Linked DNA regions of Homo sapiens: region 1 is linked to region 2. The links come from fine-mapping of genetic effects on gene expression. Tissue or cell type: whole blood. Region 2 holds a variant in brackets; the other region holds the start of a gene. All regions are shown on one strand. Distances are between the middles of the regions.

Region 1 (2,814 bases), 310 kb after region 2:
GAACAACAATGCTAATAAACAAGAGAGGATGGATATTTAGAATTATGAATTCAAACCATCTGACATAAGAAGTGAGAGATCAGGTGTCCTCAAGGTTGGCTCCCACGCATAGTCGGCTGCTGGTGGCATTCATCAACACAAATGTAAGCTGAACAGGTTTGAGGAAGACGGAAGAATGTCCGGGCTATTTCGGACATACTTTTGATAAACCACGCACGTGGAAATGCCAAGCAGGCAGTGGGATACGTGGGTCTGAAGCTAAAAAAGGAAGTCTGTACTAGCTATATTATAGATCCAAGAGTCACCAGTAATTGCTCAAGCCCGTGATATGGAGGAAACTACCCAGCTGAGTAAAAGATGCTGCAGAGGGGAGACTGACATGGTACTCCAAAGCAGCAGGACGAAGACCGAACCATATAACTGCCACGTGTGAAAGCTAATTCACCCTTTCAGAGAGACTGGGGCTAGTGAGCCCTGATGGGGATTGCAAAGGGAGCAGTTAGCACGCGAAGGGAGGTAGGTGATACCTAATCACTCGCTGGATGACATTCCGGTAGCGCAGCCTATCAGCTTGAATGTGAGGATTGCACAGAGCCTTCTTCAGCTCCTTCACCACGTCCTCGGAGCCAAGGTACGGCATCTTCCTAAGAGTCACAGGGCAGCTCCCACAGCTCCCACGGTAACTCGAGGGCTCCTTCTCGTCCTGATGTGGGAGCCTGAGTAAAGGAAATATGAGTCAGTGAAAATACAAAAGGCGAGATCTCGCCTCAGGCTCGGCTTCCGTAGGGCCGGCACGCTGGCCCTGACACACTTCCACGCCCTCCGCGACACCGCGAGCCCCACCCTAGGCTCTTCAGGCCCTACCGTCGGCCGGCAGGCCGTTCGCCCCGCCCACAGATCGCTCCCGCTACTTCTAGGTCCTCCGCCGGATTTCCAGCGCCGCGTCCGACTGACCGCAGACCCCTCCCTCTCCAGTTCCAGCCTTAATTCCCCCTCCACGCCGTTCTCATCGCGGATAGGCCCAATCTTGCTTTCTGCGGAAGTCCCGCCCCCTTGTCAAGAGACCAAACAGAAGACCGCTGCCGGTCTCCCCGCGAGCGAGCGCTAAGCGTAGTCCCGACTCCGACCTTAGGATGCCCTTCCCCCAACCTCTCACTCTCCAGGCGCAGCTGCGCGGCTCCCTCTGGTGGAGCTGCGGCGGGCAATCGGAAATCGGCTACTTTGGCCTGTCTCCTCCCTGCAGCGCGCGCTTTGAGTGCCCGGCTCGGCCTCCGCTCCCGCGCGGTTGGGAGTGTCCAGCGCCCTCCGCGATTTGGGCTCCAGCGGGCAGGGTGACTTCCTTTTTCTGCCCACTCTGGTAACTTATTGCTCTGCTGGGCTCTTTCCCTTAGGGTCTCTGGCCCTGTTCTTGCCCCAGCATGACTTTTATCGGGACGCCGTTGTGGAAGCCTCACGCAGGAGCCCTGCCCCCGTGGAGAAGATCCCACTGGTGACTCCAACCCTACCACCATGAATGGGGTCCTGATCCCCCATACGCCCATCGCAGTGGACTTCTGGAGCCTGCGCCGGGCTGGCACCGCACGTCTCTTCTTCTTGTCTCACATGCACTCGGACCACACCGTGGGCCTGTCTAGCACCTGGGCCCGGCCCCTCTACTGCTCCCCAATTACAGCCCACCTCTTGCATCGTCACCTACAGGTATGGGGCTGGAGTCGGTCTCCGAGAGCTGGTCCAGGCATCTGGGTTGGGACTTCAACCTGTCATTCTTGGAGTCATAGAATGGGGGCCACGAAAACTGATTTGGAAGTTGTTTGAACCCAAAAATGCATCTTTAACCCAGAATAGGAACGTGTTTTCGAAGTGACCAACTTGAGATAGTTAGCCATAAGTTGAGGAGATATTTTAATCCAGCCAAGGAAACTATTCCTACCTTTATAAGTAAGCTAGGCCGATGTTTCCCAAACTTGCCTTTTTTTTTTTTTTTTTTTTTTTTTTTTGAGACGGAGTCTCGCTCTGTTGCCCAGGCTGGAGTGCAGTGGCGCAATCTCGGCTCACTGCAGCCTCCGCCTCCCGGGTTCAAGCGATTCTCCTGTCTCGGCCTCCTGAGTAGCTGAGATTACAGGCGCACGCCACCACGCCCAGCTAATTTTTTGTATTTTTTGTGGAGACGGGGTTTCACCATGTTGGCCAGGCTGTTCTCTAACTCCTGACCTTAAGTGATCCGCCCGCCTCAGCCTCCCCAAGTGCTGGGATTACAAGCGTGAGCCACCACGCCCCGCCTAAACTTGCCTCATCTTAAGAATCCACCTAATGTGCTGGGTGGTTCTCCAGCTCTCTCCCCACCCCACCCTTAAGTCTCCAAGAGATTAAGATCAGGAGTAAGTTTGGGAATTGCTGACTAGACTGTTTGCTGAACTCTTTTTTTTTTTTTGAGATGGAGTCTCGCTCTGTCGCCCAGGCTGGAGTGCAGTGGCGCAAACTCGGCTCACTGCAAGCTCCGCCTCCCGGGTTCACGCCATTCTCCTGCCTCAGCCTCCCGAGTAGCTGGGACTACAGGCGCCCGCCACCACGCCTGGCTAATTTTTTTTGTATTTTTTAGTAGAGACGGGGTTTCACCGTGTTAGCCAGGATGGTCTCGATCTCCTGACCTCGTGATCCACCCGCCTCAGCCTCCCAAAGTGCTGGGATTACAGGCGTGAGCCACCACGCCCGGCCAGCTGAACTCTTAAATTGTACAAAGGGTGGGATGGGAAGTGGAAGGAGGAAGGGCAGATTGCTTGGGAATCCCCATTACAGCTTCTGCTCCCGGTGGCT
Region 2 (2,814 bases):
AATACAAAAATTAGCCAGACATGGTGGTGGGCACCTGTAATCCCAGCTACTCAGGAGGCTGAGGCAGGAGAATTGCTTAAACCCAGGAGGTGGAGGTTGCAGTTAGCCAAGATTGCACCACTGTACTCCAGCCTGGGCAACAGAGCGAGACTCTGCCTGCCATCCCCCCACCCCCCCTCCAAAAAAAAACTCACAGGACCTATAAAGCAATAGCACAGTAAAGAAAACAAAGTACTAGGTAACAATCAACATGATGACTGGAATAGTACCTTATATCTCAATATTAATGTTGAATGTAAATGGTCTAAGTGCTCACTTGAAAGAAGAAGATTGGCAGAATGGATAAAAATTCACAAACCAAATATCTGCTGTCTTCAAGAGATTCATCTAACACATAAGGATTCCTATAGACTCAACGTAAAAGAGTGGAAAAAGATATTTCACACAAATGGAAACTCAAAGTGAGCAGGAGTAGCTATTGTTATGTCAGAGAAAACAGATTTTAAAGCAACAACAGTTAAAAAAAAAGACAAAGAAGGTCATTATACAATGATAAAATGATCAACAAGAAGATATTGCAATACTAAATATATATACCCCTAACTCTAGAGCCCCCAGATTCATGAAACAATTACTATTAGACCTAAGAAAGGAGATATCAACACAATAATAGTAGGGGACTTCAACACTCCACTGACAGCACTAGATAGATCATTGGAGCAGAAAATCAGCAAACACTGGACTTAAACTACACTCTAGAACAAATAAACCTGACAGATATTTACAGAACAATTCTAACCAAGAACTGCAGAATATACATTCTTCTCATCAGCACATGGAACCTTCTGCAAAGTAGACCATATGATAGGCCACAAAACAAGTCTCAATAAATTTTTAAAACTCAAAATCTTTTGTGGGCATTTAGTGCTATAAATTTCCCTCTGCACACTGCTTTGAATGTGTCCCAGAGATTCTGGTATGTTGTCTTTGTTCTCGTTGGTTTCAAAGAACATCTTTATTTCTGCCTTCATTTCGTTATGTACCCATGCCCACAAGAGAAAGCAGGAAAGAGCCAAAATTGACATCCTAACATCACAATTGAAAGAACTAGAAAAGCAAGAGCAAACACATTCAAAAGCTAGCAGAAGGCAAGAAATAACTAAATTCAGAGCAGAACTGAAGGAAATAGAGACACAAAAAACCCTTCAAAAAATTAATGAATCCAGGAGCTGGTTTTTTGAAAGGATCAACAAAATTGATCGACCACTAGCAAGACTAATAAAGAAGAAAAGAGAGAAGAATCAAATAGATGCAATAAAAAATGATAAAAGGGGATATCACCACCGATCCCACAGAAATAAAAACTACTATCAGAGAATACTACGAACACCTCTACGCAAATAAACTAGAAAATCTAGAAGAAATGGATAAATTCCTCGACACATACACCCTCCCAAGACTAAACCAGGAAGAAGTTGAATCTCTGAGTAGACCAATAACAGG[C/A]TCTGAAATTGTGGCAATAATCAATAGCTTACCAACCAAAAAGAGTCCAGGACCAGATGGATTCACAGCCGAATTCTACCAGAGGTACAAGGAGGAACTGGTACCATTCCTTCTGAAACTATTCCAATCAATAGAAAAAGAGGGAATCCTCCCTAACTCATTTTATGAGGCCAGCATCATCCTGATACCAAAGCTGGGCAGAGACACAACCAAAAAAGAGAATTTTAGACCAATATCCTTGATGAACATTGATGCAAAAATCCTCAATAAAATACTGGCAAACTGAATCCAGCAGCACATCAAAAAGCTTATCCACCGTGATCAAGTGGGCTTCATCCCTGGGATGCAAGGCTGGTTCAATATACGCAAATCAATGAATGTAATCCAGCATATAAACAGAACCAAAGACAAAAACCACATGGTTATCTCAATAGATGCAGAAAAGGCCTTTGAAAAAATTCAACAGCCCTTCATGCTAAAAACTCTCAATAAATTAGGTATTGATGGGACATATCTCAAAATAATAAGAGCTATCTATGACAAACCCACAACCAATATCATACTGAATGGGCAAAAACTGGAAGCATTCCCTTTGAAAACTGGCACAAGACAGGGGTGCCCTCTCTCACCACTCCTATTCAACATAGTGTTGGAAGTTCTGGCCAGGGCAATTAGGCAGGAGAAGGAAATAAACGGTATTCAATTAGGAAAAGAGGAAGTCAAATTGTCCCTGTTTGCAGATGACATGATAGTATATCTAGAAAACCCCATTGTCTCAGCCCAAAATCTCCTTAAGCTGATAAGCAACTTCAGCAAAGTCTCAGGATACAAAATCAATGTACAAAAATCACAAGCATTCTTATACACCAATAACAGACAAACAGAGAGCCAAATCATGAGTGAACTCCCATTCACAATTGCTTCAAAGAGAATAAAATACCTAGGAATCCAACTTACAAGGGACATGAAGGACCTCTTCAAGGAGAACTACAAACCACTGCTCAATGAAATAAAAGAGGATACAAGAAATGGAAGAACATTCCATGCTCATGGGTAGGAAGAATCAATATCGTGAAAATGGCCGTATTGCCCAAGGTAATTTATAGATTCAATGCCATCCCCATCAAGCTACCAATGACTTTCTTCACAGAATTGGAAAAAACTACTTTAAAGTTCATATGGAACCAAAAAAGAGTCCGCATTGCCAAGTCAATCCTAAGCCAAAAGAACAAAGCTGGAGGCATCACACTACCTGACTTCAACCTACTACAAGGCTACAGTAACCAAAACAGCATGGTACTGGTACCAAAA

Evidence for each region. PIP is the estimated chance that this variant, and not a neighbour inherited with it, causes the effect. A credible set is the group of variants that fine-mapping cannot tell apart.
Region 1: DCLRE1B starts here. The variant in region 2 is the best candidate, but not a certain one, in a credible set for the expression of DCLRE1B in whole blood (TOPMed, PIP 0.75).

The regions. Positions count from the first base shown.
Region 1 is chr1:113,904,078-113,906,891 of GRCh38, forward strand. DCLRE1B (DNA cross-link repair 1B) reads left to right here and starts at 1,249. Exons shown (of 4, transcript NM_022836.4): 1 at 1,249-1,698. The coding sequence starts at 1,510. AP4B1 (adaptor related protein complex 4 subunit beta 1) reads right to left here and starts at 722. Exons shown (of 10, transcript NM_001253852.3): 1 at 528-722. The coding sequence starts at 640. RefSeq lists enhancers at 358-417, 498-1,057, 1,088-1,137.
Region 2 is chr1:113,598,053-113,600,866 of GRCh38, forward strand. All of the region lies in intron 6 of MAGI3 (membrane associated guanylate kinase, WW and PDZ domain containing 3), which reads left to right. Among named protein-coding and RNA genes, the nearest start is that of PHTF1, 160 kb to the right of the region's middle. The variant C/A (reference allele first, on the strand shown) is at 1,504.